4 linked regions of the Homo sapiens genome follow. The protein of the gene in region 4 interacts with the protein of the main gene of each other region in a pairwise test. Each region holds a gene or a part of one and is shown on either strand. Other genes may lie near its edges.

Region 1 (3,500 bases), on a different chromosome or scaffold from region 4:
GTGATGTTGAGCATTTTTTCATATGTTTGTTAGCTGTTTGTATTTCTTCTTCTGAGAAATGTCTGTTCATGTTCTTTGCCCCATTTTCAATTGGTTTGTTTTATGTTTGTTGAGTTGTTTGAATTTCTTGTAGATTCTGAATACTAATTCTTTGTTGGAGGTATAATTTGTAAATATTTTCTCCCATTCTGTGAGTTGTCTTTTTATCCTATTGATTATTTGTTTTGCTGTGCAGAAACTTTTAGTTTATGTCCTATTTCTCTATCTTCGTTTTTTATTGCGTTTGTGTTTGGAATCTTCATCATAAATTATTTGCCTAAGCCGATGTCCATAAGGAGTTTTCCTAGGTTTTCTTTTAGGATTTTTATAGTTTCAGTTTTGATAGTTTTACATTTAGGTCTTTAATCCATCTATAGTTAATTTTGTATATGTTAAGAGATGGGGAATTAGTTTCAGTCTTCTGCATATGGCTAGCCAGTTTTTCCAGCATCATTTATTGAATAGGGTGTCTATTTCCCATTGTTTATTTCTGTTGACTTTAATCGAAGATCAATTGGTTGTATATATGTAGCTTTATTTCTAGGTTAGAGAACCCCATACTGTACCATTAATCTCTGGGTTTATTTTTGTACTAGTACCATGCGATTTTAGTTACTATAGCCTTGTAGTATAATTTGAAGTCAGGCAATATAATGCCTCTGACTCTGTTCTTTTTGCTTGGGAGTTCCTTGGCTATTTGGGCTTTTTTTGGTTCCCTATGAACTTTAGGACTGTTTTTCCTAATTCTGTGAAAAACAAGGCTGGTAATTGGATAGGGATTGCATTGAATCTGTAGATTGCTTGGGTAATATGGTTATTTTAACCATATTAATTCTTCCAATTCATAGCATGGAATGTTTTTCCATTTATTTGTGTCATCTACAATTTCTTTCATCAGTGTTTTGTAGTTCTCCTTGTAGAGATCTTTCACCTCCTTGGTTAAATGTGTTCTGAAGTATTTTGGTCTTTTTCGTGGCTATCCTAAGTGGGATTGGATTCTTAATTTGGTTCTCAGCTTCAATGTTACTGTTTATAGAAATGCTACTGATTTTTGTACATTGATTTTGTATCCTGAGACTTTACTGAAGTTGTTAATCAGGCCAAGGAGTCTTCTAGAGGAGTCTTTAGGGTTTTCTAGGTATACAATCATATTGTCAGTGAACAGAGATAATTTGACTTCTACTTTTCCAATTCAGATGCCTTTTATTTTTTTCTCTTGCCTGATAGCTCTGGCCAGGACTTCCAGTACTATGTTGAATAGGAGTTATCTTGGTTTCTAACTTGAAACGTTATATAAATGTATGTATTTTTTGTGGTCTTTCAAACAATGCCACTTACATTGTGAATGCTCAGTAATGCAGATAGAAAATACAAATTAGGAAGAAGCTTGTGGCGGATAAAACACTTGCTTAGTATTATTGGTAAAGGAATTTTATTTTGATTAGGCTGCACTAAAATTAATTTCTTTTGAGTTCAAATCAACATTGTATGGCTGTAGAATTTTATTAGATAATGTTTTGGGAAATGCAATTTTGTTTCAGCAATTAATGTAACTTCCTTTTATGTGGCTTGACCATAATGGAACTGAGTTTATGTGTGGGTTACAGAATCAGTTCATTATTTTATAAAATAGTGCTACTTGCTTGCTGTTGTTAAAAAAATACTTTCTGTCAGAAGTGGACTTTTGCTAAAACATCTATACCTTTCCCCTCTTTAGCAATAACATGTATTTGTGAATGGAGGGGTGAGACTACGGATATAACTTGTAGTTTAGGGAGGGAAGCTAAAGAAATGAAATGGGGTTATGATAAGACTGGTTATTACATCACAAGTCCAGCAAATTTAACATTCAATTCAGATGATATTTTAAAATTACTTTGTCTATTTTAAAACTTTTATAAGCATAACTATTTTCATTTTATAAGTGAAGTTTAGCAAAAACCAAGAAGACAAATGTAGAACCAGATTTTCGAGTTTTACCTTCATCGATGAACTTTGGGGCTTGACTATTCCTTAGCCATCAAGTTGAATTTCCTAATTTTAAAATGAAGAATGCAATTCTAGAAACTATTACTTGTACAAGGTCATGTCAGTCATATTCATGTTTTATACCATTTGATTCTCTGTTACAGGCATAATAGGAAATAAAATATGTGTATGTTGCTTCACTGCCTTTCTGTTCTTCATCCTCACTCCAAATGGCCAGAACCTCTTATTTCTTGTTTTCTGTGGTTCTTCGCCCAGACATAATCCCCTCACCCAAACAGAACACCATCCTGTTGCTCTACTATGGATAGTTCACTGGACATTTTCAAAAAGATATCCTTGAAAGACAAGGTTTTAAGCAAGGGAACAAATGTCTTATAATGAGAATTTTAGACATGACACAAGGATAGTGGGAGAGTTGTTCAAATTTCAGCAGTAATTTTCTCTTCTACTTAGCTCTGGGATTGGCTTAGGCCAGACCAGGTTGGTCTTTCTGCTAAATTCTGACATCTTGTCAGTGGACATTACTACTTGGGTATTTAATTGCCATTGAAAGCTCAGTATACCTCAATCTGAATGAATCACCATTTGTTTTATACCGACTCTTCCACTGAACTTCATTCTTTCAATGATAACATTAATCTGTTGGTTACAAGTGTTTGAAACTTGGGGTAAATTTTGAGTATTTCATTTCCCAAACTTTACATCCAAGTAGTCACTTGTGTATGTATTTGGTTTCCCTCTCTAGATGATAAGCCTCTTGAAAGGAAAGTTGAATTTTGTTTTTACCCCCAGCCCCACTAATACTTAGTGTCTGTGAAGTAGGTGGTCAGTAAATAGTCACTAAGTGAGTGTTAATTAAAACAGAAGGTGTAGTTGTCATTAATGTAAAGGAGGTGATTTAAATAAGGTGTTTCAAGTCATAAACAAGTAACGGAAGGAAACCTTGCATGATGTTTACTTTTTATTTGATTGTTCTTTCCTGAAATCTAAGTACATTGTTATTCTACTGTTCTATTCATAACTTTCAAGGCCTGCCTGGGCCTGTTGCAGAAAATAATGCTAGGAGAGGGTTCAAAACCTCATTAATGTACTTCACCAACTCAAAGTGCAAGGGAACAGTTTGTCATCAGGAAGATGAAGTAATGAAAGAATTATAAAAACACCTGGCACCATTCTATTATTGTAAATGCAAACTGACCATTTGAAAAGAAAAAAAATTTTGTGTTTGTTAATGCATCTGTTGCCTTTAGTTCAGAAGCAAAATTTCAGCAGTATACAAGGAGTTACCCTAATTTTCAGCTTTGTCCCTTGTAACATAAATTTTAAAAAATAATCTTTGCAAAAGTTACCCTAGCAAATGGCTAGAAAATACGAGAATAAATGATGCAAATTTGTCCTAATAATCTGTTAAACTTAAGGCATTATTAAGCAATCAAAAGTGTAAAATAAGCTTAAAATCTTCTTCACAGCTA
Region 2 (4,282 bases), on a different chromosome or scaffold from region 4:
GGGGAGATTTCCCAAATTATAAGTGGTTTCACTGTGTCTTTCTTACCAGGCCGTAAGTTACTCTGGCCCCAAAGGACGCTCCTCTGAGTATGCTTTCCGACGGACCGACTTATCATGAATAGAGGGTCAAAGAACAGGGTTAACTTCAAGTTAGAGGCTATTCCTCTCTAACAAAGCCGCCCCCAAGCCACGAGTGGTGGCAGTAGTCCAGAGCAGAAGCCAGCCAGCCAGTCTTGGGGCTGCCATCTGCCCCAGGCGCCCATCCTAAGCAAAGTCCCCCCAGTGGGCACATGGGAGTGGGCAGGGAAGACACAGGGAAGGGAGTAAGGCAGCATCTGGGCCAAGGAGAGGCCTTCCTGGGTCAAGCTAGGGAAGGGCATCACTAGTTAACACAGAACGCCCATTATCAGTGCTTGGGCTAAGAGTTGCCCAGTGGCAAGTTTATCAAAAGTCTGTGTGATGAGTTGGTCCTTCTCAATAAGTGCCTATATTTCCTTCTCCCAAGTGCTGTTCTACTTCACCCAGGGCACCATTTCCTCATCTCTTTGCACCATCCCCAACCCCCTTTCTTGATTTAACCAGCCCCCACTGTCCGGGACCAGAGTGAAAGCGAAAGCGCTTTAGAGTAGCTTCCCGTTGACGCTTCCAGCTAAGAGTCAAAGCACCCGCTTTTTCCACCAGCCTCGCGTGCCTGTTCCCTTCACGGACACTCTAGACGACCCCCCTCAGAAAAGAAATACTCTATGCTCATTGCGGGTTGCAAGCGCTGGCTGCTACAGGCGACCTCCCTGCGCTCCCGTTGGTCTCTGCATTCACTTCTCCGCGCGCGCTTCCAGGGTCCCCTGGCCGCTGCATCTCCTCCACCCCTCTGCCAACCCTCAAGCCCAGACCCATTACCCCGGTGTGGACTTCTCCCGCCCGGGGTAAGTCCCCGGTTGGTGCTCCCGCCCGCAGCATCCCTGCAAGGCACCGCTCTCCTCGCCGCCTGGGGCACTGGTTTCCAACCTGGGACAGCGCACAACGCGCAGCCGACAGCCCCGCCCCTTCGCGGCGCCGCCAGGAGGCGCCTGGGTGCTGCGGGGCTGCTTTGCGCGCGGCGCTAACGTGTGTAGGGCAGATCTGCCCCGAGACAAGTGACGAGGCAGCCCCGCCCTGAGGCTGGGGTGGGAAAACTGGTGCAAGTGGAAAGGCAGGAGGCAGGGAGAGGCGAGAAGGGTGTGCGTGATGGAGAAAATTGGGCACCAGGGCTGCTCCCGAGATTCTCAGATCTGATTTCCACGCTTGCTACCAAAATAGTCTGGGCAGGCCACTTTTGGAAGTAGGCGTTATCTAGTGAGCAGGCGGCCGCTTTCGATTTCGCTTTCCCCTAAATGGCTGAGCTTCTCGCCAGCGCAGGATCAGCCTGTTCCTGGGACTTTCCGAGAGCCCCGCCCTCGTTCCCTCCCCCAGCCGCCAGTAGGGGAGGACTCGGCGGTACCCGGAGCTTCAGGCCCCACCGGGGCGCGGAGAGTCCCAGGCCCGGCCGGGACCGGGACGGCGTCCGAGTGCCAATGGCTAGCTCTAGGTGTCCCGCTCCCCGCGGGTGCCGCTGCCTCCCCGGAGCTTCTCTCGCATGGCTGGGGACAGTACTGCTACTTCTCGCCGACTGGGTGCTGCTCCGGACCGCGCTGCCCCGCATATTCTCCCTGCTGGTGCCCACCGCGCTGCCACTGCTCCGGGTCTGGGCGGTGGGCCTGAGCCGCTGGGCCGTGCTCTGGCTGGGGGCCTGCGGGGTCCTCAGGGCAACGGTTGGCTCCAAGAGCGAAAACGCAGGTGCCCAGGGCTGGCTGGCTGCTTTGAAGCCATTAGCTGCGGCACTGGGCTTGGCCCTGCCGGGACTTGCCTTGTTCCGAGAGCTGATCTCATGGGGAGCCCCCGGGTCCGCGGATAGCACCAGGCTACTGCACTGGGGAAGTCACCCTACCGCCTTCGTTGTCAGTTATGCAGCGGCACTGCCCGCAGCAGCCCTGTGGCACAAACTCGGGAGCCTCTGGGTGCCCGGCGGTCAGGGCGGCTCTGGAAACCCTGTGCGTCGGCTTCTAGGCTGCCTGGGCTCGGAGACGCGCCGCCTCTCGCTGTTCCTGGTCCTGGTGGTCCTCTCCTCTCTTGGTAAGGGGAACGCAGGGCAAGAGGGGAGGACACAAGGGGACTGGGACAGGAATCAAAGGTAATTGTCAGTAAGGTAGAGTAGCGTGGGTTCTGGGAAATGTGGAGCAGGAGAAGGACTCCTAGCGTGGGTCTTGGAACACCACTTCGGTGTAGAAGAAACGGCACTGGACTGGCGGGGGCCAGAGGTTCTGGGCTCCATTGCTGACCGGGTCTTGATTCTTTGGGCCACGCCGGAAGCGGGGAAATCCTTTGCTCTGGGGCCGAAGGGCGGGGCATCCTCATCTCTAACAGGAGGCTTTTCTACTTCATGATCTCCAGCCTTCCTAATAAAATCCTGAAAGTTCTGGTAGAGCAACCACAGGGTAGTGAGTTCCAGGGCAGCCTATTTAGGTTCGGGATTGAGACGTCAGTGTTTCCTTTCTGCTGATGCCCTCCAGGATAATGGTGAGGGGGAGGAGGCGTGGTGGGGCCAGTCTGACTGGAACTGACCTACTTAGACTTAATATTTGTGCGTGACCTCTCTTCTCTTTCTCCAGGGGAGATGGCCATTCCATTCTTTACGGGCCGCCTCACTGACTGGATTCTACAAGATGGCTCAGCCGATACCTTCACTCGAAACTTAACTCTCATGTCCATTCTCACCATAGCCAGGTCTGGGGGCTGAAAATGGGGCACCCTGCAAATGAGGGAGTTGGAAGTTGGGGCTGCTGTCCGAAATGCACTTATATGGGGATACCTGGGACCTTCAGTCTGTTCCCTGAACACACCCTGATCCCCTTTTTTTCCGGGTTCTTTATAGTGCAGTGCTGGAGTTCGTGGGTGACGGGATCTATAACAACACCATGGGCCACGTGCACAGCCACTTGCAGGGAGAGGTGTTTGGGGCTGTCCTGCGCCAGGAGACGGAGTTTTTCCAACAGAACCAGACAGGTTTCTCCTGAAACTCTTTCATTATACGCCATGTACTGTTCATATCCTCATACATCTGCTTTGATCTCCCCCCTCCCCGCTCTCTCTCTCTCACACACACATACACACATTGTTCCTTCTCATTCTTGATATACCCTCTCCCTGTCTCTCTCTCTCTGTCTCTGTCTCTCTCTCTCTCTCTCTCACACACACACACACACAATTGTTTTTCTCATTCTTGATATACCTCAGGAGCAAAATATTGTCCTCCTTACCTTAAGAAAAACCTAGAGTTTTCATCTAGCATTTTCTTATAAATCTATTCCTATGTATCCTTAGATAGAAACCATAGAATTTCAAACCTGGAAATTTTGAGCTCATAGAGACCAACTGCCTCATCTGACAGAGAAGGAAACTGAGGCCAAGACCCTAAATGCTGAAACTGCACAGTTACATATGGCTAGAGACACACTTGGGGTTAGAACCCTGGTCTCTTGAGTGCTCCACAGACTTCGGCATGCTTTCTAGCAGCACTAGAAGCTGTACAGTTACATATGGCTAGAGATAGACCTGGGGTTAGAACCCTAGTCCCAGTGAGTGCTCCACAGACTTTGGCATGCTTCCTAGCAGCACCCTCCTCCTCCATCTCTGTTATGTGACCAGTTTAAGCTCTTCCTGCCTGTGTGTATAGCATGGGACATACAGGTTCTCTAGGGAACAGAAAGCTTTCAGGAAAATGGAAATTCACATGTGCATTAATGACTTTATAATTAAAATGAAGGTCAGGCCTTTCCTCTTTAACACTCATCTTCCCTGCACTGAGATTTGCAGACCTCTGGAGAACCCTAACCTTGTTTCCTGCAGCCTCCTTAGAACCCCATGTTGACACCCCTGACCCTGGCATCCTGGCTCATTGTTAGTTCGTCTCATCACTTGGAACCTGTCTGATTCACCTCACTCTCTTCTCCCCAACCCTGCAGGTAACATCATGTCTCGGGTAACAGAGGACACGTCCACCCTGAGTGATTCTCTGAGTGAGAATCTGAGCTTATTTCTGTGGTACCTGGTGCGAGGCCTATGTCTCTTGGGGATCATGCTCTGGGGATCAGTGTCCCTCACCATGGTCACCCTGATCACCCTGCCTCTGCTTTTCCTTCTGCCCAAGAAGGTGGGAAAATGGTACCAGGTATGTTCATGGAGTTGGCCCGCTCTACACAGACCCTCA
Region 3 (2,908 bases), on a different chromosome or scaffold from region 4:
ACAAGTTGTTGTAATGATTAAATGAGTTAAATTCTATAAAGCAAACAGAACAGTACCTAGTACACACAGTAGACATACATGTTTTAGCTATTTCTATTGTTCCTCCTGTTCAAAAATCTATAACAATGAAATACTTTTCTTTATTCTATATGCATAGCTAACACAGAAAAGCACAAGTCTCAAAACTGTAACCTAAACCAGTAACAACCTCATGGCTCTTACTTTTTTCTTCCTGTAACTATGCCTGATTTTATTTTCATTTTACAATGTTTTCCATCTCAAGTCACCCAATCTCAGAGCCATTTCTCCTAGTCAAGACAAAATATAAGGATTTCCTAATTTATATACCACAGAGCTCCTGCTTGAAATGATAAATACCAATGCTCATTCGATTTTATAAAAAATTAGCAGTTAGCTGATCTCAACTTTTCAAATGGACCCTTTTTCTATTTAAAATATATCCAGGATTAGGCAGAAAGGTACAAGCTTTACATTATTTAGTATATGAGGCACTACAGCAACAGAGGCCTCCAGCACTGTCACAGAAGTGTTGCAGTGGTGCCCTCTTACGGCCGTTCATGGATAATACTTATCATAGGGTCCTTGATTTCTGACCCCCAAAAAATCCTGTAAGCTATTAGAGTCCATTAATTTTTAGTAAAATTCTTGGTTACTGTTATTTCCTTTAAATGCAATCATCAAATTAACTTGATTAAAAATTCAGAGTCTGGAGTTAGACCTTGGTTAAAATCTAGACCCTGCCACAGTTTAGCTACATGATCTTGCATAAAATACTTAATCTATATGAGCCTCAATTTCCTCTCATGAAATATAGGATTACTAGTATCCACCTTATAAAAGTTAATTAAATGAGAGTACACTAAAAGCATAGTGACTAAAACAGTAGATTCAGTGTATTAGATATTATGATTATTAAAATATTGACATCATTACTCATAAAAATCTTAAGAAAGACCTGAGCACTCTTATTTATGCCTGTAATGCCCCTACTTCCAGGCAGTAACAATTACACTTCAGAGTTTAAAATAGGTTTCCTTTCCCATGTTAAATATAAGAAGTGACTTTTTTTTCCATTGATAATAGTGAAAACTAATAGCTAACATTTACTGAGTATTACTGTCCATTTCAAGCATGTTTTATTAAACTCTATAGACAAGGAAGTGAAAACAAAGAGAAGTCAAGTAACTTGCAGAGTCTGCATTTTCCATTACCAGCCTTCCACCCTTCCAAGATTACTTTTTATAACCTCCCCAACTTTTAGAACTTTTGGACCTGGGATTCAATTTATTTACCTATATTACAAAAACTCTTAACTCCTAGCCACCTCCACAGATTTCCAATATTCTAATCTCTGCTCTCTCCTGTCCAGATCTATTGTATTCAATATATGCTATGTTTAAGGTCCTATGGAAAATCAAAAATGAAAATGACAGTTATTGCCTCAAGTAATTAATAATCTAACAGGAGCAATGCCATAAAAAATGGAGGCGGGAAAAGGGATGACAGGACAGGGATATTACACAAATTCAATCATGCAATTGTAGGACGGTGCTATGGTTTGAATATCTGTCCCTTCCAAAACTCATTTTGAAAATCCCCAATGTGGCAGTATAAAGGTGGGGCCTTTAAGAGGTGACTGGGTCATAAGGGTTCCGCCCTCATGAAACAATTAAAATCTATTCATGGATACTCCCAGGCACAGTGGCTCACACCTGTAATCCCAGCACTTTGGGAGGCAGAGGTGGGCAGATCACGAGATCAGAAGATCGAGACCATCCTGGCCAACATGGTGAAACTCCATCTCTACTAAAAATACCAAAAAAATTAGCTGAGTATGGTGGTGTGTGCCTGTAGTCCCAGCTACTCAGGAGGCTGAGGCAGGAGAATCGCTTGAACCCAGGAGGCAGAGGTTGCAGCGAGTCGAGATCGCGTCACTACACTCCAGCCTGGCAACAGAGCAAGACTCCGTCTCAAAAAAAAAAAAAAAAAAAAAAAAAGAACATTATGGAAGCATGCTCTAGATATTTTTAGTAAATAAAATAGGCCCTCACCACTGCTGCAAAAGCGTTTTATTAATCTTCAGTTGATTTTTGTATTCTTTAGAACTGTTTTTAATCTTTTCTAGTTTTTTTGGCCCCTAACTCCAGCCTTTTTCACTCCTAAATAATCTCATATTATTGAAAAGAAACAGGCAATTATCCAATGTGAGTTTTCACTCCACCTAAAAACCTTTCTGTCTTCACCCTTCTTACCTTTTGCTTTTGCAGAAATAAGTGCCCTGCCTCCTTACCAATGCTTAACGTCCATATACTGCTTATGATCATATTGTCTCCTGAGGATCTTAAATATCTGTTCTTTTGTGTCTTTCCTATGCTTGGTCTCCAAATAAGTTCTGTGCCCTTACCGTAATAACAATCATCTGCCTATCCTACTGCTTATCCTCAGGTTAAATTTGCAAAAGAATCATTTATACTTTCGACCTCCGCTTCTTTCTCACCCACTAATTCCTTATAAATTTATCTTCTTACTCAACCACCATACTAAAGCCGCTTACACAATGCCACGAATAACCTCCTAGCCATCAAATCCAAGCACCTTTTCTCACTCTGTATCCCTCTTCAACTGTCTGCGGCATGTCAGTTTGTTACCTCCTTCTTCTTCCTTCTATAAAGTCACCTTTTATGACATACTATTCTTTTCATTCTGCCTCTCTGATAATTCACTAAACACTCCTACCACTTGTACTCCCCTGAAGTTTTTGTCTCATCTCTCCTTTACCTCTTTACTCTCTCTTCAGACAAGCATTTACTGTGATGACTTTATCACCTTTCTCATTCTTGCCCTGACCATCAAACCCAAATTGCCAACAGCCCACTCAACATGGCCA
Region 4 (4,877 bases):
GAGACAGGATTCATTTTATGAAAATTCCTGAGGTCTAGACATAGCCAACCTTCCAGTAAAGTGGGTTGTACAATTTGGAGTGTTCAGTGAAGAGTTCTTGACTGCTGCCTCATTTCTTATATATACTCCTAGGAACAATTAAATCAAACTGGATTTAACTAGGGGTATTTTTTCTACCCATTCTTCCCCCACTCATAGCAGATGACATCAAGCCATGCCCACGATGCAGTGCATACATTATCAAGATGAATGATGGAAGCTGTAATCACATGACCTGTGCAGTGTGTGGCTGTGAATTCTGTTGGCTTTGTATGAAAGAGATCTCAGACTTGCATTACCTCAGGTAAGATGGGAAATGCATCCATTCCTTTCGTAGTCTCATTCTCTTACTGATTTAGGGAAAAGGATGTCAAAAAGACACATCCGTTCTCTCATTACAGGTTTAAGGAAGCTGTGAAAACTTCTTCTGACATGCTCCTCTAATCATGTTTTCACCAGCTACTATTCTGTTTCTACCTTTCTTTGCTTGCCATATTACAGGTAGTCTGGACTTGCTTTTTCCCTTTTGCTGTCTTGCCTCCATACTTGTTCATGTTCTTTCCTTTGCCTAGAATGCTTTCTGCCTACCTTCCAGTATCCTCCTTTTATCTCAACTTGTTCAGTTCTTATCTTTTAAGAGCCACTTAAATGCCTTTCATCCATGTTGCCTCTCCTTTTTCCGCCTCATTCTTTGACTTTCTTTTATCTTTTGTCATAAATATCGTCAGTACTTTACACTTCACGTACCTATCTTATCTTACTAAACTGTAAGTATCTTGAGGCTAGAGTTGTGACCTTTTTACAGTTTTTTGCATTTAGTGAGTTCCCAAGGAATTCATTAAGTGAATTCTTTTTTTTTTTTTTTTTAAGACAGAGTTTCTCTCTGTCGCCCAGGCTGGAGTGCAGTGGCTCGATCTCGACTCACTGCAACCTCCACCTCCCAGGTTCAAGTGATTGTCCTGCCTCAGCCTCCTAAGTAGCTGGGATTACAGGCACCTGCCACCATGCCCAGCTAATTTTTGTATTTTTAGTGGAGGCGGGGTTTCACCATGTTAGCCAGCCTGGTCTCGAACTCGAACCTCAGGTGGTCCGCCTGCCTCGGCCTCCCAAAGTTCTGGGATTACAAGCGCGAGCCACCGCGCCCAGCCTCATTGAGTGAATATTAAAATGTTGTGGAGGAGTTAATATTTACAAACAAAATGTTTGCTAATATTTACAAATAAACAAAATGTGTTAATATTTACAAACAAACATTCATTGTGTAAATGAAACACAACACCTTCATTGCCAATTTGTCGAACATTTGAGTACTTACTGTGTGCTAGTCATTGGGGACATAGGGGTGAGTAAGACATGATCCCTATTTTCAAAATTGTTTATCCCTTCTAGTGGAGAAGATAGCACAAAGAGAATGGGCAAAAATGGTTGGGCACAGAAGGGCTGACTGTAAAAGTAGCCAAACTCAGAATACCAAACTGATAGAAAGGTTATGATGAGGTCTTTTTATATCCTCTCCCACGAACATGGTTTGCAGTATCTATTAGGTATGGTAGGACATATGCCAAGAAAACTACACAAATCAGAGTGTTCATTAGTGCAGGGTGCAGTGTGTCTGGATGGGATGTCAAGTGCATAAGGCTATGCAGCATCCCAAGTATTGTCAGTCATGGAAGCTAGATCAGTTTTGGTGGGTTAGGGAAGACAGAATTCAGCAGAGAAGAATGGAAAAGGAATTTCAAGTCTGGAAGCCTGTCTTTACAACAACAACCAAAAAAGTTAAAGAGCCCAGAGCTCTAATAGTCTGGCCTTGTCCTTTGCTCTCCCTTGTGTAATGTATTCATTTCCCATAAACTCTTCTGTTAATCCTTACTGAAAAGAAGGCTGTTGCTGTTATCAAGCCCTATGATAATACTAGCTGTATTTGTAATGTTGACATTAACTTCAGTCTGTTTCCCCTGCAGCCCCTCTGGCTGTACATTCTGGGGCAAGAAGCCATGGAGCCGTAAGAAGAAAATTCTTTGGCAGCTGGGCACGTTGATTGGTGCTCCAGTGGGGATTTCTCTCATTGCTGGCATTGCCATTCCTGCCATGGTCATTGGCATTCCTGTTTATGTTGGAAGGAAGGTAAGAAAGACATGCTGGTTTCTGTGCTTGTTTCAACTTTAGGTTCGTTAGTAAAGGTTTGAGGGAAATGGGAAGGAGCTATGTTTCAGAGCTGCCTGAAAACCAGCTGGTTCTTAGATAAAAATAACCTTACTTTCTTAAATGGATTTTCATAAACCCCCATGAGATCTGAAAGTTCTTATTAACATCCTGGGCCTGGCTTGTCTCAGTGACTTAAAGGTAGAATGCTGGGCCAGGCATGATGGTTCACATTTGTAATACGTGGCCTAGCACTTTGGGAAGCCAAGGCAGGTAGATCAGTTGAGCCCAGGTGTTTGAGACCAGCCTGGGCAACATGACAAAACCCATCTGTACCCAAAAAAATAGAAAAATTAGCTGGGTATGGTGGCATGTGCCTACAGTCCCAGCTACTAGGGAGGCTGAGGTGGGAGGATTGCTTGAGCCCAGGGACGTAGAGGTTGCAGTGAGCCAAGATCGCACCACTGCACTCCAGCCTGCATGACAGACTCCAAAAAAAAAAATAAAAGAAGAAGGTAAAATGCTTACTTCATTCTGCTGGAGTTATTTTGTCTCTTTTTGGATTAACTTTGCCTGTATTACTTTATATCTTCCAGGTCTGAGTTAGGTTAAAATTTGATAAAGATGCCTATTTGGGGTAGAGGATATGTTTTAATATAGATAACTTACAAGTGAATATTCACCTGTCCTTTTTTTCTCTGGCAAAAGATTGATGTCCTAACCTGCTGACCTGGATTTTCTTTTTTTATTCTTAGATTCACAGCAGGTATGAGGGAAGGAAAACCTCCAAACACAAGAGGAATTTGGCTATCACTGGAGGAGTGACTTTGTCGGTCATTGCATCCCCAGTTATTGCTGCAGTTAGTGTTGGTAAGCTAGTCAGGACCACACCTCTTCTCTCTCAGCTTTCTGACCATAGCAGTTTAGCCAGATGGCCAGATGTTTCTCAAAGACTCCTACATTTTATGCGAACCCACCTTGATAGTAAATTCTGTTAGGCACCATGATTATGATTATTTTTAAGTTTTTCAAGCACACCAAATTATCAGAGTGTGCAATCTTTTGTTCTTAAGTTAGTGCCTAGAACTCCATTTGGCACATAGAAAAGGTTGAATTACAGAAACTTATTTTAAGCCCTAGTTTTCACCTTTCATCTTCCTTCTCTACTTGCCATGAAATCCACAAAACAAAATTACTTTTGTTTTGATTTGTTTAATGCTTCACATTACTTTGGGAGGCATAAGAGTTTGTTTTAGAATAATAATAGTGTAACTAACATTTAATGTGGCTCTTCATGTGCCAGGAGTGGTTCTGAGACTTTTGCATATATTAATTTATTTAATCCTCACAATCCTTACAAAAGGAAGCACAATTTTAATAGAAAGGTGCAGTAATTGGCTGGGCGCAGTGGCTCACGCCTGTAATTCCAGTGTTTTGGGAGGCCGAGGCGGGCGGATCACGAGGTCAGGAGATCGAGACCATCCTGGCTAACACGGTGAAACCCCATCTCTACTAAAAATACAGAAAATCAGCCGGGTGTGGTAGCGGGTGCCTGTAGTCCCAGCTACTTGGGAGGCTGAGGCAGGAGAATGGCGTGAACCTGGGAGGCGGAGCTTGCAGTGAGCCGAGATCGTGCCACTGCACTCCAGCCTGGGCAACAGAGTGAGACTCCGTCTCAAAAAAAAAAAAGAAAGGTGCAGTAATTTTCCCAAGGTCACTTAGCTGGGACATGAATCAAGTTAATCTGCCTTCAGATCCTGTTCTCTTAACAGCTAAGCCATTCTACCTCACACAGCAGTAAGATTTTGGAATTAACATCCTGAGGAGATCCTAAACTCCAAGCAGTAGTCACTTATTTAATATTTGATTCTTGATTGGCTCTTGATTGGGTTAGCATTTCAGCAGTGATTAGAAGAGGGGAAAATGAAAGCAACATATATTTACTGTGCAAAACACAGTACATAGCATTCTCATTTGATTATTGACAACCCTGGGAAGATAGGTCCAAGGTTATACAGCTAGTAAATGGAGCCAAGAATCTAATCCAGACCTTTCTGATTTCTAGCCTGGTCATCATTCTGTTACACCAGGCCACCTTTTTGGGATAGCCACTTTCTGTCTTCCTTTCTTTATAAAGTGGTTTGTCCATGCCCAGACTGGGAAGAAGAATTCAGGGCACTTGCAACCTAATAGCCAGCTGACATGTTTCCTTCTCTTCCCCCAGGTATTGGTGTCCCCATTATGCTGGCATATGTTTATGGGGTTGTGCCCATTTCTCTTTGTCGTGGAGGCGGCTGTGGAGTTAGCACAGCCAACGGAAAAGGAGTGAAAATTGAATTTGATGAAGATGATGGTCCAATCACAGGTAAAAAGCAGGATGTTTATTTCCATTTGAATTTATGATATACAAGATAAAAATCAGTAAAATTCAGCGCATTTTACAGGGAGATTGTCATTGGATTACTTTGGATAATGAGCTTTGTAGGGGGTAAAGTATTTTTAGCTTTTCATTTCTTTGTTCCAAAGTTATTAGGTTAATTCCCCTGGTACTTGCCTCTGTGTGGCAGGTACAAACTAGTAGGAATCCAAGTAACTCCAAGTATGCTGGTAGTAGTAGTGATTATAATAACATCTTTATATCTGCACAGTACTTGATAATTTTCAGAGTATTTTACACAATTATCTCACTTGCTTTT

The links. Proteins that work in one complex are often made in the same cells at the same time.
Region 1: the proteins of RNF19B (region 4) and BTG4 interact in a two-hybrid assay, tested with the Homo sapiens proteins (one study listed by BioGRID).
Region 2: the proteins of RNF19B (region 4) and TAP1 interact in binary tests that used the Homo sapiens proteins (3 or more experiments, as listed by UniProt).
Region 3: the proteins of RNF19B (region 4) and SEC23A interact in a two-hybrid assay, tested with the Homo sapiens proteins (one large-scale study listed by BioGRID and IntAct).

What each region holds. Positions count from the first base shown.
Region 1 is NC_000011.10:111,502,387-111,505,886, reverse strand, and holds part of BTG4 (protein BTG4), read left to right. Parts: intron 1-3,500. UniProt on the Homo sapiens protein: Adapter protein that bridges CNOT7, a catalytic subunit of the CCR4-NOT complex, to EIF4E.
Region 2 is NC_000006.12:32,850,905-32,855,186, reverse strand, and holds the start of TAP1 (antigen peptide transporter 1), read left to right. Parts: upstream 1-1,482; 5' UTR 1,483-1,550; coding exon 1,551-2,148; intron 2,149-2,425; exon of another isoform or gene 2,426-2,592; intron 2,593-2,684; coding exon 2,685-2,799; intron 2,800-2,947; coding exon 2,948-3,078; intron 3,079-4,037; coding exon 4,038-4,243; intron 4,244-4,282. Other genes in the region: PSMB9 (proteasome subunit beta type-9 precursor), read right to left, coding at 898-957. UniProt on the Homo sapiens protein: ABC transporter associated with antigen processing. In complex with TAP2 mediates unidirectional translocation of peptide antigens from cytosol to endoplasmic reticulum (ER) for loading onto MHC class I (MHCI) molecules.
Region 3 is NC_000014.9:39,034,328-39,037,235, forward strand, and holds part of SEC23A (protein transport protein Sec23A), read right to left. Parts: intron 1-2,908.
Region 4 is NC_000001.11:32,943,688-32,948,564, reverse strand, and holds part of RNF19B (E3 ubiquitin-protein ligase RNF19B), read left to right. Parts: intron 1-198; coding exon of another isoform or gene 199-201; coding exon 202-343; intron 344-2,000; coding exon 2,001-2,163; intron 2,164-2,936; coding exon 2,937-3,051; intron 3,052-4,405; coding exon 4,406-4,546; intron 4,547-4,877.